Homo sapiens: one gene and its partners. The protein of the gene in region 3 interacts with the protein of the main gene of each other region in a pairwise test. Each region holds a gene or a part of one and is shown on either strand. Other genes may lie near its edges. The genes, in order: THOC1, EHHADH, PPP1R12C and SPECC1L.

Region 1 (7,032 bases), on a different chromosome or scaffold from region 3:
AGAAATTTACACAGAGATACATCATAGTAAAACTAAAAGAAAACCAAAGGAGAAAAAAAATCTTAAGCGCAGAGAAAAAAATGTAGATTATCTTCAAGAAGTGAGACTGACATCTGACTTGTCAATAGAAAAATGGGAAACAGAAGACAAAGTAAAGATTATTTCCCGTGAGATGAAATCCTGTATCTAGTGCCAATCTAGAATCTTATACCTATTGGGAGGAGGTCAAAATACCAATATTAACAGGAGTTTGGAAGAAAGAAAGGAAAAAAAATAAAGGAGAAGTAACGATTTTTAGGCAAAACACAGACCTGCACTGAAGAAAAGTCTAAAAGGGAAAATGATCACAGACAGAAAGCCAGAAATACAAGAAGTGGTAAATCTATATTAACCCTGACCACATAAAATAAGTATGAAAGAAAACAGCACAGACATAAGATGACAAAAAGAAAGCACATAAACCACTGCTAACATATGCTATAGGTCTTTCTACATGCAGGCACTAATGTAAGCTCTTCACATGTTTTAATTCATTTAATCCTCAGAACATATAAAGTAGGTGGTACATTAGCCCAATATTAAGGAAGGGAGGACTGAAGCAAGGAGATATTAAAATCTCGCATATTTGAACATACTGGGGAGGCGGAAGGCTCTGGAGGACAAGCAATGTCCCATTTCAGGAGCTAGATAGTGGTTATACAGTATTTGTTTCATTATTATTCGCTTTATGTACTTTTCTATATGAGCGTTATATTTCACAATAAAAATTTGTTAAAAAAAGAGAAATGAAAGGAAGTCTATATAGCTAAATAGTTGTGACTGAGAGAAAATCCAAACACAAAAATAGGCATACATTATGAAATACGGATATGATGGTTCATATCTACATGTTTCAGTGTGATTCAACTTTACATTAATAAGCTTTGAACTTAAAAGAATCCATGACTTTGTTTCAGGATTACCTGTATTATATACTAGGACTGCTATACATTTATAAGTAAAAGAAAATAAAGTGACAATTTCTATGATGTCTTTCAACTTTTTAGAACCATTTTTCTCATTATCATGACAGATTTTAATCTATTAAAAACTGGAAAAGATTTTCCTGCAGAAAACTCATTTAATGCATAAAAGCTTACCTGATTTCTCAGACAGAGGGAAAAGCCTGGCCAAAAAGAGCTGAATCCGTCCACAGAAGACTGTATTCTGGGATTTAGACAATCTTCTTAGGAGATCTAACAATATATGAAAATGAACGTTACACAGAAAAGATAATTCTATGTTTATTACAACCACACCTAAAAGTTTCTAAACCAGTGTGTCAAGAGTATTTTCCTAAAGCAGTAGTTCTTAAATTGGGGGCCGAAACCACTGCCACAAAAAAGTACTATAAATTAGGAACAAAACAAGTTCAACATGACATGAAAAAGACAAACTTTACTACGTTTCTGACTTTAAGCTTATGCCCAGAACAAAAACAGTTTAAAGTGAATAATGAGTTCTAACAAATCAGATTGTTAGTTAAAAATGCAGATACCTAATCTATCTTTAAAATGTTATCACTGGTATTTAATTCAACCATGTGTTTTTCTGGGCATATTTACACTTAAAAAGCAATCATTTTATCACTCAATTACTTACCATTGCACATACGTAGTAAGTAATTTTTCCCAGCAGAATAGAATGTATTCTGAAATTAAGACGGAAATTATCACTCTTCTTCAGAACTTGTTACACATTCTTCAATAATAAGTTGCCAGAGTGAAATATTAAAGAACACTAACATGCACTGAGAATCTACTATGCCACTTTCACTTTTTTTAAGCAAATAACATTTTCAATGAAATAAAAATATTTTCAGATATAAGAAAACATGATACTAAGTAACTGTTTTAAACATGTGAAAGTGTGAATTTTCAAGTTAATTTTTATTACACAAATTAAATCAAATTTTGTATTTCAAGTTTTTCTCCACACATGGTTTTTATTTGGCTCTCCCGAGAGAGCAGTATATAATTTTTTCATAGGCAGAAACTTGTTGGCATTCAGCAATACTACAAATAAATTTAAAAAAAAAAATCTACCCTCAGAATTCTGGATCTATAGAAAGATAAAGTTAGCAGGAAAAGAAACTAAGGCACTTACTGATTTCCAAGTAGCAACATTTTTTTCCACAAAAGTGAATATTGTGTCACACTGATCCAAAGGAAGACAATCCAAAACATCTCCCAACAATACAAAAGGTGTAGATGCGGTACAAATACCTTCAAGTGGAGCACAAGCCAATTTAAAAGTTTAAAAAACTGTAGAGTAGAATAGCCTATGAAAAATAATTCTGAAGAATATCTTAAAAGGTACACTTTGTTACTCATAACAAGGTTTTAAAAGGACAAGAAGTGGAAGCAACCTAAAAGTCCCCAAATAGGACATACTTAAGTAATTTTTGATATGTGCACTCAGTAATGATGACAATAATTCTTGACAAGATCTAGAGCATTTACTATATGTCAGGCACACTAAGTACTTTACATATACTAACACATTTAATCCTTACAATCCTATGAGGTAGAGCATATCATTATTTGCATTTTATAGAATGGGAAAACTGAGACACAGAGAGGTTAAATAACTTCACCAAGATCATAGAGCCAGTAAGTGGTAGAGCTGGGATACGAACCCAGGCAGTCTGGCTCCACAGTCTGTTTTCTTCACCACTAAGCTATTCAAAAGAATATAATGCAGCCAATTAAAAATGATGGTTATAACGACTATAATAACTTGGAAAAATGCTTATGATATAATGCTAAGTGAAAAAAGGCAGGATTCAAAATTGTATGTACATATGGTTATGACAATAAAAAAAATTCTTAAAAGACTATAGAAACTAAAACCATTATACCAGATGAATGGTAGCTTTTAAAAGTAGAGGAATTAAGAGTACTGTTTTCCCTTCTTATTTCTAAATGTTTTGTAATGTTGCTAAATTGTCTTTGTGATTTGAAAAGATTATCTTCAAAAAATAACAAGGTTTGATATTAACTATGATTCAACATTTAAAATAACAGTATTGTTTCAGGGGAAAGAATGGAAAAGTAGAAAGTTACTGTTTAAAGAACAACAAAATTAAGATTTTTCTTAAGAAAAGGTCTACGTAGTCTATCTAGACTACTTAGAATACTTTTATATCCCTACTCATTCTTCCTTCTATTTTAAGGCAATGAGTACTTACTAACACTCATAAGTGTTTAAGAAAAGTAGTCACTTAGGCATGGTATATGGAGGAAAAATATCTAGGGTGATCTAAGCCCAAAACAGTGCATTAATATACTATGTCCAGAAAAAAGGAAGAAATATTTCCAGCTGTACTCTGCACTAGTAAGATCATATCTGGAATGCGACGTGAGGGATATTGCCTAGAAGCAGTGGGTGAAATAAAACAGCAGATTTCAACTCAATACAAGGGAACACACCAATAACCACATTTGTCTAACAGGACTCAAACAGTGAGCTCCACTAATGAGCATGATTCAGCAGAGGCTGAATGACCACCCACCAGGGATGTTACAGCAGAGAAGCAGTCTAGGCCAGAGATGAGACTGGACTAGGTGACCTCTAAAGTCCCTAACAATACTTAGATTCAATGATATTATATACCCTGCACATCCAAGAGATTTGAGAAGCATATTTTCTGCCCTTAGTTGCAGTATAGCCTGGAATAAGTTAACTCACATTTAATAATTATAGAACTTTTTCTAGATTCTACTGCCAAAATTCTGAGTCAGTAGAACTAAGCAAGGTTTGGGAATCTCATCTAAAAATAGATTCACTGGTGGTTCTGATGAGCCAGCAAGTCTGGGAACCATTGGGTTATAGTGTGATTCCCCCAAGAGCTTTCACAACCTGTGTCCCAGCTTCCACACCAATCTCTCTCCTTACCCTTACCTGGGCCACAGACATCCCTTTCTAGTTCCCACTCCCCAGTTCCCAAACACCATGCCATGTTCATCCTTCCATGGTTTTGTTCACAATGTTGTTTTCTGCATACTCTTCCTCCTCTTTACCACATGGTAAATTTCAACTCCATCTTTCTAAGCATAGAGTGAATGTCAGCTCATCTAAATAACTCTGATATCCTGAAGCAGGCTACTTCATCTATGCTTTTGAAGCACACTCTACATAAATATACTGTAGCATTTAGCACATCCTAACTAGTCACCTTTGAATGTAGACTATGAGCTTTTTAAGGTTAGGCATTTTTGTATGCTTTAACCAGTAGCATCTCACACTGAATAGAAGCTCAATAAATATCGGCCAAATTGAATTTAACAAAATATATTTATGGATAATTTAAAAACATGTCACATAACCAATTATAGTCTGTCTCAAAAAGAAAAATTATCCCTAAAATAAAAATGCACTATGCCTTTACAGTTTAAGCTCTTAAGTCCTTATCCTTCTCAAAAGTTCCAAGTATAGACTAGACTTTGTACAACTTCTTCATTAAAAACATCACCAGCTGTGCAAGAATAATGTATAAAGGTAATCAATGAACTCAGGACACACTGAACACTGTTTGACTGAAACTAGACAAGGAATATTACATTGTGGGACTCAGCTAACTATGCCTAATGAATGAATGATTAGGCAGCTTGTATAAACATTTAACAAAGTGAATTTATGAACTTAAGTTCATAAAATAGTTTGCCCCTATACTGGGAGGTGTGTGCCAGTTTTTATAGAAGCATCAAAATAACACATAATGTGAATAATGCTTTACAGATTAAAAAGGAGTTTTCACATATATTATTTGAATTAATCAAATGAGTATTTTAACCAAATTGGTTAAAGAAGAATGCTGATAAACTAATTTTTTATTTCTTCTTTCTGCATATATTTAACGAGCTCCTATTTTGTGTTAGGCTCTGTGTACTATGTGCATTGTTTACCCGAAGTCTTCTAAAGCTATCACACACAGCCATTTTAACAGGCTCCTGCCCAGTTTTCCTGCCAGCAGTCACTTCAAATGGAATCATTCATCTGCAGCTGCTCTTTTTTTTTGAGATGGAGTCTTGCTCTGTTGCCCAGGCTGGAGTGCAGTGGCTCGAGCTCAGCTCACTGCAAGCTCCGCCTCCCGGGTTCACACCATTCTCCTGCCTCGGCCTCCTGAGTAGCTGGGACTACAGGCGCCCGACACCGCGCCCGGCTAATTTTTTTATTTTTAGTAGAGACGGGGTTTCATCGTGTTAGCCAGGATGGTCTCGATCTCCTGACCTCATGATCCGCCCGTCTCAGCCTCCCAAAGTGCTGGGATTACAGGCGTGAGCCACCGCGCCCGGCCTGCAGCTGCTCTTTAGTATGGCACCCAGTGCCCTTTATAAATGGACCTAACCTGCTTCTTTCCTCATCATTCTCATTGTCCTCTCCTCCTCCTGCTGTACACAATTCTCTAGCTATTCCTTTCTTAGTATGTCTAACAAATTCTTCATACCTCACATTCTAGTTCTCATGTTCTTTTCTAAAACCTCTCCTGACTCCTTTAGACTGAAGTTTAGAGAGCCATGTTGGCTCTATTCCCTCTAACTACACTTCATTCCCACTTCGACCATAGTACTTACACCATAGTAAGGCATGCATACATCTGTTTCTTCCATTAGCTCCACATAAGCAGGGGAATATGTTTTATTCACCATTGAATCTCCAGGTCCTAGCTCAGTACCAGGCACATAGTAGATGCTCAATGAAAATTTACTGAATGAACAAAACAACTGGAGAACAAAGGAAGTGCCAAAATGTGCACTGCATAATAGAGATGAGAAATAAGAGTGAACTAATTCAACTGGGACTTCTTGGCAAAGTTGGGAGTCAGGCAGAACTTGAAGAATAAACAAAATCAGATAGGTGGAGAAGTATGGGGAGAAGACGTTTTAAATAAAGCATGTCATGTCCAAGATTACTTTAAACAAAACAAAACGGAACCATACTTACCTTCAGTTACTCCCCCAATAGCAAGAGAAATAATAGCTAAAACGTTTTCACATGATGAATGATTTATCTACCAACAGAGGAGAAACAATTTAATTTAGGGGCAAGAGTTCAGACTAAACTCGATTAACAGTAAAAACATGTACTCTGATATTAAATTGACTATCAGAAATATGGAATACAATATTTCTTATAGAAAACAATATTTTCTAATATGAAGTTACCAAAATTTAACAGTAACATATAGAATCAATAGTCGTAGAAGTATGTCAAGTAACAGGCAACTCACTCAAAATCCAATGGTCTCAAGAAAATGGTTATATTAGCAAGATGAAGGCTATAAGCTAATCAAGGACAGAAGTGCTGAAGCCATAACTCAGCCAGTGGCACAGGGCAAAGGCAGGGCTATGAGAATTAACTACTAATACACCCATGTGTCTGAGGGGTGGTTTTAATAGAAGGAAGACAGTGCTTAGGTTCTATAAAATCATAATAACCAGCATTTACTGAGTGTTCATTAAGTGCTGTTTTACACACAACAACACTGAAAGAACGGTATTTCCCCTCTCACAAAAGAAACTGAAGCACAGAAAAGGAAAAGAACTTGCCCAATGCCTCACAATGGAAAAGTGACTAAGTCTGAAGAAAAGGAAAGAATCATTTTTTAATCAGACTTGTCTGAGAGAAAGGGACATTGTACTATGGCCAATAGAAGGGAATCTAGCTTTTGGGGACCCAACCTTTGCTTGACCAAGAATAAACTGTTGAAACTTTTCCTTTCATTCAGGTGCCCCATTATTGGTAAACAAATTCAGATTTTTCATGGTTAGACTTCTCTACCGAAGTTGGAGAGCCCTCAGTTATTTATGTAAGTTTACTGATGAGGAGGATGCCAGAGGAAAATGAGGGAATGGAATCCCAGCTCCTAAGCTAAATATTCTTGGACTAGACCTTTTGCGCCACTACAGGATGTATCACTGCTTATACAGGAAAGTGAGAGAGCCCACCTTCACCTCTAGTTCTTCCTAAGACCTCATGTCAACTTTTCTT
Region 2 (4,958 bases), on a different chromosome or scaffold from region 3:
CAGGGGTTATTGACTCATAAAACCTATTCATAGACCCTCTAGTTTCAAAATCTCAATCTAGGCCAAGCGTGGTGGCTCACGCCTGTAATCCCAGCACTTTGGGAGGCCGAGGCAGGTGGATCATGACGTCAGGAGATTGAGATCATCCTGGCTAACATGGTGAAACCCTGTCTCTACTGAAACATACAAAAAATTAGGCAGGCGTGGTGGCGGGCACCTGTAGTCCCAGCTACTCAGGAGGCTGAGGCAGGAGAATGGTGTGAACCTGGGAGGCAGAGCTTTCAGCGTGCTGAGATAGCGCCACTGCACTCCAGCCTGGGCGACAGAGCAAGACTCCAGTCAGAAAAAAACAAAAACAAAAACAAAAAAACAAAAAAAACCCCCTTAATCTAGAGGCCACTGTAGGGTGAAAATAAGTTGTAAGAACTCAAAATTAATTCCAGGTTTGAAGAAAAAGTTAGTGGGTTTTTTTTAACACTGATTTGAAAGCAAGTCACTTTGGAGACAAAATTACTACTTTCAGGAATCATTTTTATTGATGTCTTTAATTTCACAAACCAAATTATATAAAATTAAGTAGTACACATTTCAAACATAATAATTGTGCTCTGTACAATTCAAGGCACACTTGGATTTTTTGTTGGTTTTTTGTTTGCTTTTTAACAACGGAAAACTTATACTCCATTCAAGATTTTTCCATCAGAACTTTAATCATTTTATTTGGGTTCACAGGTGAAAATATTGTGAAAGTTCATTTACACCACAATGAAGGATAACATCTTCAGCCCCATTTATTTACTAACAACTTTATTGAGATATAATTCACATACCATATAATTCACCCACTTAAAATATACAACTCAATGGTTTTTAATATATTGTTATGTGACCATTACCACAATAAGTTTAGACCATTTTCATGAACCATAAAGAAATCCTGTACCCATTAGATGAATCCTGTACTCCCCATTCATCACCCCCAATTCTAGCCTTAGGCAACCACTAATGTACGGAAAGTATTTTTTGTAGAGACAGGGTTTTGCTATGTTGCCCAGGCTGGTCTCAAATTTCTGGCCTCAAACAATCCTCCTGCCTCAGCCTCCCAAAGTGCTGGGATTACAGGTGTGAGCCACTGTGCCTGGCCCTTTATTTCTTTTTATGGCTGAATAATATAGTCCATTGTATGGATATACCAGATTTGGTTTATCTATTCATTAGTTCATAGACATTTGGGTTGTATTCAGCTTTTGGCCATTATGAATAATTCTGCTATAAATATTTGTGTACAAGTTTTTGTATTGACCAGCCCCTTAATTTTTAACTACACAAGGCAAAAAGTAAAAAGAGAAGAACTCTTACAACAAAATCATACAAAATATGTTTTGCAACAATTTTAGATTTTTCAAGATTCAACCATTTCCATATGTAACATCACAGAGGCTTGTCATGACAGGAAAACTGGTGTCATTACTCTATCACAGAATTGGGAAATCCTAGAAGGTTAGATGTTCTCTAAGACCCTTCTTACACTAAGTTAACGACTTACTACTTTCTATTATTTCTCCATAAACAGAAGAGGAAAGACCAGAAGAGGAAAGGCTTGCCACACTAACCTAAGTTCCCTGTGCTGGTTTGAAGTACTCAGTTCCCTTACCAATTTCCAACTGTCTTTTTCCTACAACTTTAATGTTTGTTGAGTGTATGTATGATTCATAAGATTTCTGATCAATACTATGTGTGTGACATTGAAAGGAGTCAAAATGAATGTATGACTTAGCTGCATTTATCATTTATTAATTGATGACACATTTATCCAATGATAAAAGCATTTGAGAATCTCAACTTATGCCTGAGCCTCTTTCATTAGCTATTATGGTATTATATTCACACAAGTTCATGCATTGAATTTATCTGATAAGGACAGATTCAGAGGCATAGGAAGCACATTCCTAAAGATTTGACCATTAGAGTCGTTACACAGAAGATTCTAATGATTATTTATTTTGCTTTGTATTTCAGAACAATCTTACTTTGGATTTTTGATTTAATTTCACTGAAATTCAGTCAGCATTACCTGATGCTAGCATGTGAGGCATAATCTGGAAGACTGAATCACAATTTACTGCTAGGGGAGCCTGCCAAGCTTTGCCATTCTTTCAGGGGAGGGTTTCCCTGAGAAGCCAGTTTTTTTAGATAGTCACTTGGCTCCAGTTGGGGAATATCAGGGTTCTGCCTGTAATATTTCTGCAATTTCTCTAGAACTGTGGGCAACCCAACTGTGGAAGCATAGAACATGGGCCCGCCCTTGTGCCTTGGCCATCCATATCCATGTAAATAGACAACATCAATGTGCTCTGGGCTAGCAGCTATCCCTTCTCCCAAGATACGGAATGCTTCATTGATAAGTGAATATAAGCAGCGTTCAAGGATCTCATCCTGGCTAATGGTACGTGGTTCAATGTGATGGGTTTTTCTATACCGTGATAGGAATTTGGAAAGCCAGGGATCAGGTTTGTGAATCCTACCCAATGGCTTGTCATATTGATACCAACCCTTACCTGTCTTCTGGCCAAATCGTCCTAATTCACAGAGCACATCAGGAATTGGGCAGTACCTCCTATTACCCCTTTTTCGGGCAGGAGTTCCTGGAAGCAATGTAGGTCCAGTAAGACCTTGCCCCTTTCTAGATTTCCAGCCCACATCCAACCCAGCAAGATCAGACACTCTAAAAGGTCCCATTTTAAAACCAAACTCTTCCAGCACCTGATCTACCTCCTCTGGTTTGCTGCCTTCTTCTAACAAGAAATATGCCTGATTGTAGTAAGGATTCAACATTCGATTCCCCACAAATCCAAAACAGTTGCCTACAACGACTCCAATCTTTTTAATCTTTTTTGATAAGTTCATAACAGTGGCAATGGTAGTGGGGGAAGAGTATTGGCTGGGAATAACCTCTAACAACTTCATGACATGAGCTGGCGAAAAGAAGTGGGTGCCAATGACCAAGTGAGGACGATCAGTGGAAGAAGCAATCTCATCAACATCCAGGGCTGAAGTATTAGTGCACAAAAATGCTTCTGGTTTGCACACAGCTGAGAGTTCAGCAAAGACCTGCTTCTTCAGGCTCATTTCCTCAAATACTGCTTCAATGACTAAATCTACACCACCAAGCTCCTTCACAGATGAAGTTAACCTGGGTTTTGGTCCTGACCAAGGGTGGCCGCTCTGTTGCATTTTGGAGGCTTCTTTTTCCAAGACAGAGGTTATCATCTTGTTTGCAGTTGCTAGCTGGTTTTTGTCCGAGTCTACAGCAATCACAGGAATCCTGGCCCTTGCAAAAGAAATGACAATGCCTCGGCCCATTGTTCCCAAGCCTGCAGATAAAAATCAAAGGAGAAAAAGAATGATTCAGTGGTATTGGGAACTGATAAATTATTCACTGGATGGAAGGCTTATGTGACAATGTGGCATTTAAAGAGATTGAGTCAAGAAACACAAATGGATTGAGTACTAGTTAAGACTCTGCACTCTCTTAAGTGTTTCAGAGGATATAAAAATTAGTCAGATTCACACACACAAATAGAAGCTATACAAACTAATAAATGAGTCCAACGAGATTGTAGGTACACAATTGATATACAAAAATCAAGTATATTTCTATATATTAGAAATAAACAATCTGAATATAAAATTAAAAGAAACAATTCTACTTACAATAGCATCAAAAAGAATAATACACAGGAAGAAATTTAACAAAGAATAGGAGGATTTGTACACTAAAAAGTACAAAACATTGTTAATAGAAATTAAGTAAGACCAAATAAATGGAAAAACATTAAATGTTTTTGTATCAGACAACTTAATATTGTTAAGGTGGTAATACTACCCAAATTGATGTGAAGAACCAACACAATTCCTATAAAAATCCCAGCTGGTTTTTTGCAGAATCAATAAGCTGATCCTAAAATTCACATAGAAATGCAAGAAATCCAGAAGAGCCAAAACAATACTGAAAAAGAACAAAGTTGGAGGATTCACTCTTCCCAATTTCAAATTGTATGACAAAACTATTCAAGGTTGGGTGAGGTGGCTCGTGCCTGTAATCCCAGCACTTTGGGAGGCCAAGGTGAGAGGATCACTTGGAACCAGGAGTTTGAGACCAGCCCAGGCAACACAGTGAGACTCCAACTCTATAAAAAATTAAAAATTAGCCAGGGGGCCAGGTGCAATGGCTCACACTTGTAATCCCAGCACTCTGGGAGGCCGAGGTGGGCAGATCACCTGAGGTCAGGATTTCAAGACCAGCCTGACCAACATGGAGAAAACCCGTCTCTACTAAAAATACAAAATCAGCTGGGTGTGGTGGTGCATGCCTGTAATCCCCACTACTTGGGAGGCTGAGGCAGGAGAATCACTTGAACCCAGGTGGCAGAGGTTGCAGTGAGCCAAGATCGCACCATTGCACTCCAGCCTGGGCAACAAGATTGAAACTCTGTAACAACAACAACAACAACAACAACAACAACAACAACAAAAATTAGCCAGGCATGATGGTGCATGCCTATAGTCACAGCTATTTGGGAAGCTGAAGCAGGAGGATATCTTGAGCCCAGGAGTTTGAGGATTGCAGTGAGCTATGATCACACTACTGCACTCCAGCCTATGTGACAGAGTGAGACCCTGTCTCAAAAAAAAAAAAAAAAAAAAAAAAAAAAGAAGCCTATAGTATTTAAGACAGTGTAAGATAGTGGTCATTGCAAAAGGATAGACATATAGATTAGCAGAATAGAACTGATAGCCAAAAGCAAACCCACACAATTATGGCCAATTGATTTTTAACAAGAGTGCCAAGAACATTCAACAGAGAAAGTATAGTCTTTTCAACAAATGATGCTGGGACAACTGGATATCCACATGCAAAAGAATGAAGTTGGACCCTTACCTCACACCATATACAA
Region 3 (7,032 bases):
CAGACCCCAGCCCCTCCTCCCTCAGACCCAGGAGCCCAGGCCCCAGCCCCTCCTCCCTCAGACCCAGGAGCCCAGACCCCAGCCCCTCCTCCCTCAGACCCAGGAGCCCAGGCCCCAGCCCCTCCTCCCTCAGACCCAGGAGCCCAGACCCCAGCCCCTCCTCCCTCAGACCCAGGAGTCCAGGCCCCAGCCCCTCCTCCCTCAGACCCAGGAGTCCAGACCTCCAGCCCCTCCTCCCTCAGACCCAGGAGCCCAGACCCCAGCCCCTCCTCCCTCAGACCCAGGAGTCCAGGCCCCAGCCCCTCCTCCCTCAGACCCAGGAGCCCAGGCCCCAGCCCCTCCTCCCTCAGACCCAGGAGTCCAGGCCCCAGCCCCTCCTCCCTCAGACCCAGGAGTCCAGACCTCCAGCCCCTCCTCCCTCAGACCCAGGAGTCCAGGCCCCAGCCCCTCCTCCCTCAGACCCAGGAGCCCAGGCCCCAGCCCCTCCTCCCTCAGACCCAGGAGTCCAGGCCCCAGCCCCTCCTCCCTCAGACCCAGGAGTCCAGACCTCCAGCCCCTCCTCCCTCAGACCCAGGAGTCCAGGCCCCAGCCCCTCCTCCCTCAGACCCAGGAATCCAGGCCCCCAGCCCCTCCTCCCTCAGACCCAGGAGTCCAGGCCCCAGCCCCTCCTCCCTCAGACCCAGGAGTCCAGACCCCAGCCCACCCCACACCTGTGTGGACCTCCGAGACTGGCGCATGAGACGGGAGCGAGCTTTTCTCTGGGATTCCGACTCCTCATCCCGCACAGGCATCTGGTAGGACCTGAGGGAAGGGTCCCAACCTCAGACAGGGAACCTGGGGACCCTGTCCCATTCCGTGGCTGACACCCTCCGCGGGAAGCAAGTTCTGTGGGAGGGGACTCCAACTCCCAGCAGACCTGAGGCCAGCTCTCCCTCAGGAGCCCACCCAAAGCCCCGGGACTCCTGCTTCACATCGTCTCTCCCTGCTGGGGGCGGGGGCGGCAGCTTCCTGCCCTGGCCTCTTCACCTCCGTCGGTCCCGGGAGTCCGCTGGGGGCGCCGTGGAGGCTGTGGGGACGTTTGGCTTCGCTGGGGATTCAGGCTCCGGAATCCTGGAGGGAGGCGAGGAGTTCTCCAAGCAAGGAGGAGGCTTGGTGACCTCAGACCTGCATCAATTCATTCATTCCACAAACATTACCCAGGTGCATTGTGTGCCGGCACTGGAGATGCAGCCGTGAGTGAAAGAAACAAATTATCTGGGCCACAACAGAGTCAGAGCTGAGCAGAAATACACAAAACCCACAAAAGCCATGAAAAGACCAGCACACTACGCAACCGGTCAGAAGGATAAAGGACTCTGGACAGAAGCAGCAGTGCGAGAACTGAGAGCGGGAGGGTGTGCGTGTGCGGACGGCGCCGTGGTGGCAGCAGGGTGGTCAGTGTGCACCTCGGGGTGGGGGGAAGATAGGGGAGAAGGTGACGTTTCAACACAGACCTGAGGGAGGGAGAGAGCCCCCAAGAGGAACACAGCACAGGCTCTGGAGTGGCGGCAGGAACCAGACCCCAGGGGGTACATGGTCTCACTCAGGATCACACGGACAGGCTTGGAACCCACATCTGCCACCCACCCCTGAGGGGCCCAGGCCCTGGGGACTCACAGGACAGAGGGCTCCGGCAGCTTCGGGGAGGGGGTCGGGGTAATTCTGGCAAGACGGAGCTCCTTGGCCTGTGTGGAGAGGAGAAGGGGAGGAAGGGGCAGTTCCCTCGACTGGGCAGGGGCCTGGGCCTGGACCCGGCCCAACCCTCACTCACCTGAGTGGAGGTCCCTTCCAGCCAGGAGGAGGAAGCCGAGCGCTGCAGCCCAGCCCCAGGGGCTCCCTCCGCTGTCCGCCTTTCAGGGGGACCCAGGGCACCAGAACTCCCTGTCTTCAGGAGGCCAAAGCGCCTGGAGAAGGGGGCCTCTTCAAGCTGCTGGGAGAAGGAGGAGGTCTCAGTTAGAGAGAAAGGATCCCTCTTCTCAGACCTCAAGGGTTAGCCCCCAAAGGACTGCAACAAACTACAATTCCCATCAGCCCCCGGGGCAGGCACAGCCTAAAAAGGAAGCCGGTTGTCCAGGACGACTCTGGGAACTATAGTCTTCCCCCTATCTGCCCCTGCCAGAGGTTCACAGGCTGTATGGAATCCCACCTCCGGGCCCTCCCAGCCTCACAGGACCTCTCAGGGCATCCACTCACCACGGGACTCTTAGGGCTGGGGTGCGGCGGGGAGGAGACGCCATTGAGGGTTCTGGGTTCTGCAGGGGGTGGTTCTGTGATGTGGGAACACCGGGCAGGTCACAGAAGATGCCAGTTGCCTCTAGATTCAGAGAACCCGACCCCTCCTCCCTCGGACCCAGGAGTCCAGATTCAGGCCCCTCACCGGTGGGACCTTCTTCCCCCTCATCCTCGTCCTGGATGGGGGGCCCCCCAGCCCCACCAGGCCGGCGCTCCTTGGACAAGTCCTGGAGGGAAATCTTCTCGCGACTGCTCAGACGACACACAGAGCTCCTGTTGGGGAAGGAGAGGGTGCTGGGGTACAAGCCCGGGGCCTCCAGCCACCCCGCCAGCCCTGGACTCCTCCCTCCCTATACCTTCTGTGTTTGCTGCTAGAGGGCGCTTGGGGCTCCTGGCCCCGGCTCTGGGAAGCTTCTTTTTGGTTCCGAAGCTGCAAGGAGGGAAGGGGGCTGCAGGGGAGGGGTGGAGCACACGTGCCCCACAGCAACACCACCACAAACAGCTGTGCAGGAGCTCACTGCCCAGGCGGGCACCGAGGGCTCGTGGGCTTACTGGTTTTCCTACAGATGGCCACACACCTCAGGGGCAGGAGGTGCCCTGCGTCCAGCAGGCGCCCGCAGCTGCCACGTGCAGGCACTGCCGTCTTGTCCTCACGGCCCCCACCCATGAGAAGCCTCCAGTCTCATCCCCAGAGGGGTCCTTCTAGCTCCCAGGGGAGACCTGCTTAGACCTCACCCCGACCCCTCAGCATACCCAGGGCACTGGTGGGCCCTCAGCTGCCCCGGCTCCTGCAGCCGGCACTCGCCTCCTCCTTCCCCGCGCAGTTCACCACCGTCTTCACACCTTCCCCGCAGTTCACCACCGTCTTCGCCCCTTCCCCGCGCAGTTCACCACCGTCTTCACCCCTTCCCCGCGCAGTTCACCACCGTCTTCGCCCCTTCCCCGCGCAGTTCACCACCGTCTTCGCCCCTTCCCCGCAGTTCACCACCGTCTTCGCCCCTTCCCCGCAGTTCACCACCGTCTTCGCCCCTTCCCTGCAGTTCACCACTGTCTTCGCCCCTTCCCCGCGCAGTTCACCACCGTCTTCGCCCCTTCCCCGCGCAGTTCACCACCGTCTTCGCCCCTTCTCCGCGCAGTTCACCACCGTCTTCACCCCTTCCCCGCAGTTCACCACCGTCTTCACCCCTACCCCGCGCAGTTCGCAGTTCACCACCGTCTTCACCCCTTCCCCACGCAGTTCACCACCGTCTTCACCCCTTCCCTGCAGTTCACCACCGTCTTCACCCCTTCTCCGCGCAGTTCACCACCGTCTTCACACCTTCCCCGCGCAGTTCACCACCGTCTTCACCCCTACCCCGCGCAGTTCGCAGTTCACCACCGTCTTCACCCCTTCCCCACGCAGTTCACCACCGTCTTCACCCCTTCCCTGCAGTTCACCACCGTCTTCGCCCCTTCCCCGCAGTTCACCGTCTTCACCCCTTCCCTGCAGTTCACCACCGTCTTCACCCCTTCCCCGCAGTTCACCACCGTCTTCGCCCCTTCTCCGCGCAGTTCACCACCGTCTTCACACCTTCCCCGCGCAGTTCACCACCGTCTTCACCCCTACCCCGCACAGTTCGCAGTTCACCACCGTCTTCGCCCCTTCCCCACGCAGTTCACCACCGTCTTCACCCCTTCCCCGCGCAGTTCACCACCGTCTTCGCCCCTTCCCCGCGCAGTTCACCACCGTCTTCACCCCTTCCCCGCAGTTCACCACCGTCTTCGCCCCTTCCCCGCGCAGTTCACCACCGTCTTCACACCTTTGTACTGGGAGGGCCCTTCATTCCTGCCCTTCTAGCAAACTCTTAGTGCTGTAGTACTCACGTCTTCCAGAAAGTGTCCCCAGATGCTCCCAGGCTGGTCTCCCCCCATATCTGGGCCCCCTGAGCTGACCCTGCCCCACCTATTAAACCCCTCATGGCCGTATCACCCTCAGGATGGAAGCCACCATGCTCCTCGCCTGGCACTCGTGGCCCTCCCGGGTCTGCCCTGCCTTACGCTCCCCTCCCTGGGCACCTCAGGGCACCCACACTTGCCCCCCAGCCTGTGTGAGATCTTCTCCTACATCCATCAGCCTCCACTTCGCTCCTGCCAACCTTTCAAAAGAGGAAGCTGTCTCCGCTCCCCTGCCCACGCACCAGAAGCCCTAGGCCTGGCCTTGGGAGCTTCCTGTCACCTCACAGAGCTCACTGAACGCTGGCATGGCTCTAGTGCTTTCCAGGGGCACGTACTCCCCCGAGCTCCTGACAGCACAATCCACGTGTCACGCATGACCCCTCATACAGTTGCGCACCATACCATTCCCATTTGACAGATAAGGAAACTGAGGCCCGGAAAGGAAAGTGGCTGGCTGAGACTCACGGCAGATCCATGGCAGAGCCGGGATTCCAACCCAGGCAGTCTGGCCAAGGCTCACGCCCTTCACTCCTTCACTCTAAGTTTTCCCAGCAAGGCTGCCCCGGGGATGGCTGGGGGACACCTTGTGGGTGACCAGCCCAGCCTGAGTCTAGGACAATCCTGCACATGGCTGCTGCCAAGGGCCACCCTGAGGTGATGAGGTGTGCTAAGCAACCTCATCAGGGTGTCAGACAACCCTGTCCAAATCCTTCTGCCGCCCCCACCACCAGGCAGGCAGGAAGCTCTGCAGCCCCATCTCTGTCCTGCCCCGGCTGGGGGTCTCTCCTGAGGCTGGGGCTGGGGCTGGGTCACCAAGAGGGAAATAGCAGGTCGCTGGGGTGGTGGGTGTCAGAAGTCGGGGGGGTTCCCCCTCTGCACCCTCCTCTGAGGAGCTGAGGGGACATGGGGAGTCTGGGGTAAGCCCCTCAGCCCTGACACTCACGTCCTCCTGTTTCCGGGCCAGTTCCTCCAACAGGCTCAGTACTTCCTCATCGGCCAGGTCACAGGGACGCTGCCCCTGGGTCAGGGGAGGAGCAGGATCAGACAATGAAGGAGGTGCTGGGCCCTCCCCACGCCCTGCCCCTCACCAGCCTGGGCACTGGCCCTCACCGCATGGGTCAGTGAGTCCATGCCCCCGCCATGCTCGGCCAGCAGGCGGCAGGCATCCTCCACGCCCCAGTGTGCCGCTGCGTGCAGGGGAGTCCAGCCGTCCCCGTCCCGGAGCTCTGGGTCGTAGCCAGCCTGAAGGAGCAACCTGGGGGCCAGGGAGGCTCAGGGTCAGAGGCCAAGGCGGGGCCCTTGGCCGAGGGCTGATTTCGGCCAGCGGTTTGGTAACGAGGTCCCAGGCCACGAGACTGAAACGTCCCTGGACAGGCTGGTAAAGAGCCACTGCCCAGCATCCGCTGCCACAAGAGGCCCCTCTGCACCAGGCCTTGTCCCTCCCCTTGGACCAGCAGTTACATGTTAAACCCTGACCCTGCAGGTGGCCTCTGGAACCTGCTCCTGGTGCTGGCAGGGGGTCACCCTGGCTGTGGGATTCCAAGGTGGCAGCAGCGGGGTGTAAGGAGGCAGCTCCGGAGGATGCAAGTGCAGGACCCTTGCCAGCCCCCATGCCTGTCAGAAGGATGGGACCCCCAAAGGGCTGTCTCAGGGCAGTAGTGCTCTAGGACCCGGGCTGGCTTAAAGCAGTGACTCCCAACCAGGGCAATGCTGTCCCCCAGGGGAGACCCGGCAGGTCTGCAGACATCTTTGTTGTCATAACTTAGGGCAAGGGTTAGCGGCATCGGCTGGGTGGAGGCCAGGGAGGCTGCTCCACACCCGGCTGCGCTCAGAGCGCTCAGCAGCAGCCCCACAAGGAGAGGGACCTGACCCAACATGCTGCCAGCGCCCAGGCTGAGAAACCCTCACCCGAGACAGTGTTCTGCGAGAAAACAATAACCACCTTAAACCATTCAATCTGAGGGCAAAGGCAGGGTTACAAGTCCAAGGCCACTCTCCAAGCTCAGCTTAACGGTAGGACGTGTCTATTTTTGGAGAACTGGAATGAGTTTCTGTGTCAATGAGAAAGAGCTTCACAAAGTGGGAACAGATGGACAGCCTGGGATATTCTACAAAGAGGCCTTATAAGCACAAGTCCCTCTCTCTGGTCCCGCCCACCTTGCCCTTCACCTTTCCCACGCTTTGCCCGGAGCTCACCCTGCCCCAGCTGTGCTGGGCCCTCGCTATTTCCCCAAGCGTCCGCTCGCCGCTGGCCTCTGCACTTGCTGCTCTCAGCCGGGCAGTGTTCTGTGCCCTGCAGCATCTCACGCTGAGCCCCTTTTTGGCAGTCACCACCCCCTCATCCCCCTGTCTCCTGACCCCAAAGCCCCTCCTCATCACACTTGTCTTCTCCCATAACCCTATTTATATCTTAAGCCAGCAGTTCTCAACTGGGGCAATGCTGCCCCCCAGGGGACATTTGGCCACGTCCAGAGACATTTTTGGTTCTCACAACCAGGGATGCTCCCAACATCCCATAGGTGGAGGCCAGGGAGGCTGCCCCACATCCTGTGATGCATGGGACGGCCCCGCAGCAAGAGCGATCAGCCCAAAATGTCTGTCTCCCCACGAGGCTATGAGCCGCACACAGGCCCAGATCTGTCTTGTTTACCCATTTCCCTGGCACCTAACAGACTGCCTGGCACACAGCAGGGGCTCAAAAATAAGCATCGAATGAGTATCATCAAATAAACATATACCTCTACTCTGCAACAAATGTTTTTTTGTTTTGTTTTGGTTTGGTTTTGTTTTGAGACGGAGTCTCACACTGTCACCCAGGCTGGAGTG
Region 4 (7,032 bases), on a different chromosome or scaffold from region 3:
CTGGAGAGTGTCAGGCTGGACAAAGAAAAAGCAGAGACTTTGGCTAGTAGCTTGCAGGAAGATCTGGCTCATACCCGAAATGATGCCAATCGATTACAGGATGCCATTGCTAAGGTATTGTTTAAATAGATTAAAATGTTCCGGACAGCATTAGGCAGCTGCCATGCACAGTGTTTACTGAGAACCTGGGTTACTGGTTTGGTTTGGTGTGTTATTAGCTTTTTTTTAAAACTGATATTTTTAAAACTTGGGAATGGTTTCCTTTTATTGGAATAGTGTGAAAAGTATTCTTAAGATAATGTCACTTTCTCTCACTTGTATTTTGTTTCTGTTTTCCTGCCTGTGAGAGGATATGGCTGGTATTACAGCTAAAACCAGAATTTGTCCCTAGTTCTGAGTATTCCTATGGAGCGGGTCATGAAATTTTACCTCCCCCCGCCTCATCTCGAATCTGTTTTGGTGTAATAGGTGGAGAGTCAGTATTCCAGTCTGTAGCATCAGCAGTGCATGTTTCCTCTTATCTTGCTATAGTAATAGTTTTTCAAATAGAGATCTGTTGATAGTTAAAAAATATTTTTGGCATATAGAGGCTCCTGTTTCTCAGAGGCCTGTGATTTATTGCTGGCAGGGACCTTAGCAATTATCAGTCCAGACCCTTGTTGTACATGCCTCCAGCATAATAGTGAGGACTCAGTTGGAACTGCTACCCAGGGCCACTGGCATTCTGGCCAGGGATCTATCTATACCCCATGTGGTTGCTGATGAACTGTTTATTTCCATGAGTTATTCTAGTTATACTAGTTATTCTAGCTTACATTTTATTTATTTGTTATTTTAGTGCAATGATTTTAAAATAAATTTTCATATATCTTTGGCTAAAATTTGAGTAATTTAGATTTTAGGGTGTTTTTAGTGATCACTTTTAAAGTTACAGTTTAGGAGATTTGTATTAGTTCTTGGCACATACATGTTGAGAGGCTACTGTGAACTAATACTTTTGTAAAAACACTATTTGAGAATTGTTTTCCCTTTTTCAGTTTGATACTGGAACCGTCACAAATATGACATCATTTTTGTTAGGACAACATGTTAATCATTAAACAAACGTACATGCTTTCAGTCCAAAGTTAGGAGAAACGAAAATTTCCAAAGTTTCCTTGTAAATAATCAGGTTAAGTTCAATGATACATCAATATAATTTCAGTCAGTGTTACAGCAACAGTTTAAGTGTATTAGATAAAATCTTACCATGGAGTGCTTTTTCATACTTTTTAACAGTTATTACACAGGTTGTTTTAGTTTATCCATAGTGCCTCATACTTAGCTCCCCTTGGAAACTGTGTGTACCTCAATTCTGGAACGTACCTTAGAACAACTCTTAACTTTTCTAAATCTGCATCGTCAATTTTACGTAGGTAGAGGATGAATACCGAGCCTTCCAAGAAGAAGCTAAGAAACAAATTGAAGATTTGAATATGACGTTAGAAAAATTAAGATCAGACCTGGATGAAAAAGAAACAGAAAGGAGTGACATGAAAGAAACCATCTTTGAACTTGAAGATGAAGTAGAACAACATCGTGCTGTGAAACTTCATGACAACCTCATTATTTCTGATCTAGAGAGTAAGTGATAAGAACTTTTCATTCTTTTTTGTCCTACTCTTTTAAACATGCGGGGATAATTTGCATTTAGTAATAAAATAGGGCTGGGCACGGTGGCTCATGCCTGTAATTCCAGCACTTTGGGAGTTCAAAACCGAACCAGGCTGGGCACAGTGGCTCACACCTGTAATCCCAGCACCTTGGGAGGCCAAGGCAGGCAGATCACTTGAGTTGAGGAGTTTGAGACCAGCCTGGCCAACATGGTAAAACCCCGTATCTACTAAAAATACAAAAATTAGCTGGGTGTGGTGCCAGGTGCCTGTAATCCCAGCTACTTGGAAGGCTGAGGTGGGAGGATCGCTTGAACCCAGGAGACGGAGGCTGCAGTGAGCTGAGATTGTGCCAGTGCAGTCAAGCCTGGGTGACAGAGTGAGACTTTATTTCAAAACAGAAAAGAAAAAGTCACAGATTGATCCTGTGTCCATGGTAACTGCCTGGCAATATCAGCATGATTGATGGAGATATAACCAGAGCGAGAATGGATTATTTTTTGTCAGAGAATAATGGGGTTCATAATCAATAATGGGACTCAAAAGTTATGAACCCATTATTAAATGAGTAGGGCAGTGCCCAGAGTTGTTCAGAACAAAGTTGGTCTAATAACATTGAGAACAGCAGTTTGCCTGATCTCTAGAATAAAAATAACATTGTAAAAATTGAGTTATAATTTGTAATTTAAAAATAGGAAGATCATAGTAGTAGTTCTTTTCCTTGGTCGACTTGAATGTTGCTTTTGAGTTGAAGACAGTAGATGGCAGTGTCCCTCACAGTAGGAACACTGAAGAGGAAGGAAACTGCTGTTAGAGGTTCGAGAGTTGAAGAGTAATGCTGCTTTCTTGTGTGACCACAAATCGTGCTAGATGGCAGTTTTGCAAACTAGTCTTCACAACAAGAACTTAAGCACAAATTCCTTTGTTTCCAGGAAAAAAAAATACATTCCATTTCAGAGTAAAAACGTAGTCATGACTGTAGAGATTGTAAAGTTTAAATCAAATCCCTACAGACACTTTTAGTGCATTTTATTCTGTCTGAGTATTTCCACTGGCTGCCACTTTCCCTTTTACTTAAATGGATTTATTTATTTATTTATTTATTTATTTATTTATTTATTTATAAGAGGTGACAGTAATAAAAATGTAGTGCCGGGGGCAGAAAAACACCTTTTAAAGAACAGTGATTATGTGAATTCTGTGGCCATGAATGAAAAAAGGTCAATAAAGAGAAAAAGAGCAAAGGAATGAATGCAACTTGAGAATTTATGATCAGTCTAAGATGACCAGGTAGCTTAAAATGTCACCTGAGAATCAAAATGCCAAATGTTAAAAGTGAGCTGTCCTGAGATTTGCTGTCATTTGTCATGTGTGTATTATGTTTAACAGTAAGTAGATGTGTCATGTCCTTTGTGACAAGAAAAAGAAAACAATTTTCAGCAAATTTCAAGAGAAATTACACTCCTAACATTTTTTGTTTGCTTGCCTGTTTTTTGCTGTTTGTTTGCTTTTTTGGGATGGAGTTTCATTCTTGGTGCCCAGGCTAGAGTGCAGTGGTACCATCTTGGCTCACTGCAACCTCTGCCCCCCGGGTTCAAGCGATTCTCCTGCTTCAGCCTCCTGTGTAGCTGGAATTACAGGCGCCCACTACCACACCCGGCTAATTTTTTATTTTTAGTAGAGACAGGGTTTCACCACGTTGGCCAGGCTGGTCTCGAACTCCTGACCTCAGGTGATCAGCAGATATTACAGGCCTGTGCCACCACGCCTGACCGCCTGTTTTGATTATGAAATATTTCTTGCATATAAATTGATACAATGTAAATGAAAGGTGTAACTCCCAGTGTTTTCAACATTAGAAATTTTTCAGCTTCTGTCCTTACTCCTCGTCTTATGTCCAAAACCCTGAATTTGTCTATGTGTGAGGTCGCAAGGAACCAAGTTCCCTTGCTGATTCCAGAGCCATCCTTGCCTCCAGAGATAAGGATCAGGGCATTAGACTCGTCTACTCAGCTTGGTGTCTGCTTTACCCAAACCAGATTAGATGGCCTGTTTGACTCTTCGTTTGCAGGTTGAGTCTGAAGTACCTTATGTGTGAGACAGGCTTTAAAGTTTAATCTTTTGCTTATGAAGTCATCTACCCTTGTTGTCTCAACACAAGACTAGCCTTTCTGTCTCTAAGAGGATGAAGATTATATCTTTCCTTTCCTTTACATCTTAAGCACTTAGAAAAAAGCCTGGTACAAAGTTGGTACATATGACACATTTATCAAATTAAAGAGTAAATTTTGAACCTTTTTATTTCACAGGACCTGACTTTGTTACACAGTTTTGGGGCAGTGAATGAGAGCAAGTTAACTACTGCCTACCAGAATTGCCCCTGCCGCCAACGTTTTATCCCATTTATTTCTGATCCAGCTTTAGAAAATACAGCATTATTATTTATTTGTAATAATTATTATTCCACATATAATTGTTGTAAATATTCTAGGCTCTATGTTGTTAAAGTGAATTCATGCCATTTAAAAATACCAGAACACTGGCTGGGTGCAGTGGCTCATGCTTGTAATCCTAGCACTTTGGGAGGCCGAGGCGGGTGGATCATGAGGTCAGGAGTTCAAGACCAGCCTGGCCAACATGGTGAAACCCCGTCTGTACTAAAAATACAAAAATTAGCTGGACGTGGTGGCAGGCGCCTATAATCCCATCTCCACAGGAGGCTGAGGCAGGAGAATCGCTTGAACCCAGGGGGCAGAGGTTGCAGTGAGCTGAAATCATGCCACTGCACTCCAGCCTGGGCAACAGATTGAGACTCCGTCTCAAAAAAAAAAAAAAAAAAAAAAAAACATCAGAACACACATATACCAACATCAAATGTAAAGCATAATGGCAAAAAAATTTTAGAAGAGAAGGTTCTAGTGGAACAGGGGTAAAGAAGATGATGAGCCATCTAAGAAAGAAAGAACATCAGCATACTCATACTTTAGGGTCCTAATTAAAAGCCAATAAAGTGTTAGCTAGAGGAAGAATTTTTTGATTACATGTGTCATTGCAAGCAGGTGTTCACTATGCCTGAATTCCTGCTACTAAGTATAAGGAATGGGAGAGAATGTTATTTACCCAGAAACACTAATGTCTATAGTTATGTTTTCCCTAATGATAAATCGTTAAGTTCTGTCAATAGGATACTTATTAAAAAAAAAACAAAAACCTAGGTAACGATTTCAGCATTACTTTTTATTACTGCTACCATTAGCTGGCACATTTATAAATTTATTCCATTTTAAAGATACCATATTCCAACTACTGAGTCTGTGAGGTCATCACATGGCTTCTTCTGCCTTTGAAGTGTTTTTAGTCTAGTGGTCGAGACAGATGTGTCGAGATGTGGTAATATTGGCGGCAACATGGTACAAGGCTGTGTAAGACACACTTGGAACACACACAACAGCCAGGGATCTACTGGGGTGGGGCTGTAGGTAAATCAGGGTAAAGGATTTGCCACCAGTTGTGTAAGTACCCTTTCTTGCCCTTAACCAAAAAGTGATTGGTTCCTGAGCTGTCAAAGTAACACAGCCGTAAGCGGTTTACTTAGTGGCAGCTATCAGCATAGCACCCTCCTAAGTCATTTATCTCTTATGCATGGATTTTAGAGTAGAACCTCCAAAGAGAAGGTGACTTCCCTTTACGTTTCTGGTTCCAGGGAGACTAGCCTGTGCTACACTTTCATCCTTGTATCCTCACTCTATCTAGAATGGTACTTTGCATCTTATTGGTGGTGCTCATTGAATGTTTTTAGAGTGAATGAAATTGTTCTAAGAAAATTCACATTATCGGATAAATAATTTGAGGAATTATTGATTTACTTTATAAATATATTCTTTATTTTTTAAAAAGATTTTTATAGAATTAATTGAAACAGCAGCTACCCTGAGTATTATATTTTTTACTAATTTTGATTTTACTAATTCACTTCTTTTCTGGAATTTATTCCAGTGTGTAAGGAAAGCTATGCTTATATAAATACTGCAGATTAATAATACTTGTGATTAAAAGTTCATATTGTAGTCACAGTCAATATTGTTTTGATTGGTTATGTACCAACAAAGTGAATTTCTAACGGTTTTACTTTTTGTTTCAAAATTAAGATACTGTGGAAGGAAGTGATTTAGAAATTGTGATTTTTAACTTGATATTTTCCAAAGAAAGTAATATTTGTTATTACTTGAATTTAACATTTTTTCTGTTAAAGTTTTGTATTAAAATTTTTTATAGTCTTTGGACAGGATAACTTTTTTCGAATGTCATATTTAAGTATCCCTTTTCTTTGTATTATTACTCTGAAGATTGTTGTGAGAATAGATATTTAAACTTTGGTGATCTTTTCAGATACAGTTAAAAAACTCCAGGACCAAAAGCACGACATGGAAAGAGAAATAAAGACACTCCACAGAAGACTTCGGGTAGGATAAATCTTCATGTATTGTCTTGTTAGAAAACGGTTTTCTGAAATCTGAGGTGTAGTCATTGACCATGTTATCATTCATCTTAAGTTTTGGATACAGTGATAATACTGGCCCCATTGGGCTTTGGGCAGAAAGCAAATGCTATCATTTCAAATTGGGATTGGTGCTAGATTTTGGGTAGAAGAATGTACTATAGGTTGAGTACCCCTAACCAGACATTCTGAAATCTAAAATATTCCAAAATTTGCAACTCTTGGAGTGATGGCATGATACTCAAAGGAAATGCTTATTGGAGCATTTTGGATTTCGGATTTTCAGATTTGGGATGCTTAGCTGTTAAGTATAGTGCAAATATTCCAAAATCCAAAGAATCTTAAATCTGAAATGCTTTTGGATAAGTGATACTCGACCTGTAGAAATTTATGGGTAGTAATTTTAGAAAGATAGATTTGGGGAAAAAGTGTAAGAAAGGTTATTAGCTTTTGGTTATAAGGTGCCCCAAACTAGTCTGTTTTCATACAAGTTTTCTTCATTTTGTGGCCATGATCCATCTTGCCAACAGCAATGCAGCCATGCTGCAGGGAGTAGGGAGAAAGCTACTCAGTCGTTTGGGTCATACCACAGTTGCTCAGGCTGCTTTCATGGTGTAAGAAAATTGCTTTAGGGGTGTAGGGGGCGTGGGGCTCAGGCATGCCCCAGCTATGGCTCTGATGGAGGTGAGTCCCAGGGAGACTTCCCCACCCGGCCACACCCGCATCCTCCATGACTGTGGGAAGCAACAGACCACGTAGTTCCTTACCGCCTCTTTGTATAATTTTGCCTGCCTATATTGAGTTTAGTGTTTTTCTTCTGGCTTCCTCTTCCTCTTCCTTTTCTTTTGATTTTTTTTTTTCCTGTTAGATTTTGATGTCAGG

Evidence for each region.
Region 1: the proteins of PPP1R12C (region 3) and THOC1 interact in binary tests that used the Homo sapiens proteins (3 or more experiments, as listed by UniProt).
Region 2: the proteins of PPP1R12C (region 3) and EHHADH interact in binary tests that used the Homo sapiens proteins (3 or more experiments, as listed by UniProt).
Region 4: the proteins of PPP1R12C (region 3) and SPECC1L interact in binary tests that used the Homo sapiens proteins (3 or more experiments, as listed by UniProt).

The regions. Positions count from the first base shown.
Region 1 is NC_000018.10:258,041-265,072, forward strand, and holds part of THOC1 (THO complex subunit 1), read right to left. Parts: intron 6,053-7,032; coding exon 5,986-6,052; intron 3,081-5,985; exon of another isoform or gene 2,678-3,080; intron 2,265-2,677; coding exon 2,146-2,264; intron 1,691-2,145; coding exon 1,642-1,690; intron 1,236-1,641; coding exon 1,140-1,235; intron 1-1,139. UniProt on the Homo sapiens protein: Component of the THO subcomplex of the TREX complex which is thought to couple mRNA transcription, processing and nuclear export, and which specifically associates with spliced mRNA and not with unspliced pre-mRNA.
Region 2 is NC_000003.12:185,190,114-185,195,071, forward strand, and holds the end of EHHADH (peroxisomal bifunctional enzyme), read right to left. Parts: intron 3,375-4,958; coding exon 2,113-3,374; 3' UTR 511-2,112; downstream 1-510. UniProt on the Homo sapiens protein: Peroxisomal trifunctional enzyme possessing 2-enoyl-CoA hydratase, 3-hydroxyacyl-CoA dehydrogenase, and delta 3, delta 2-enoyl-CoA isomerase activities. Catalyzes two of the four reactions of the long chain fatty acids peroxisomal beta-oxidation pathway.
Region 3 is NC_000019.10:55,093,635-55,100,666, forward strand, and holds part of PPP1R12C (protein phosphatase 1 regulatory subunit 12C), read right to left. Parts: intron 5,462-7,032; coding exon 5,317-5,461; intron 5,225-5,316; coding exon 5,150-5,224; intron 2,702-5,149; coding exon 2,628-2,701; intron 2,545-2,627; coding exon 2,417-2,544; intron 2,307-2,416; coding exon 2,233-2,306; intron 1,970-2,232; coding exon 1,811-1,969; intron 1,725-1,810; coding exon 1,657-1,724; intron 1,165-1,656; coding exon 1,027-1,164; intron 802-1,026; coding exon 711-801; intron 1-710. UniProt on the Homo sapiens protein: Regulates myosin phosphatase activity.
Region 4 is NC_000022.11:24,322,805-24,329,836, forward strand, and holds part of SPECC1L (cytospin-A), read left to right. Parts: coding exon 1-114; intron 115-1,415; coding exon 1,416-1,623; intron 1,624-6,041; coding exon 6,042-6,115; intron 6,116-7,032. UniProt on the Homo sapiens protein: Involved in cytokinesis and spindle organization. May play a role in actin cytoskeleton organization and microtubule stabilization and hence required for proper cell adhesion and migration.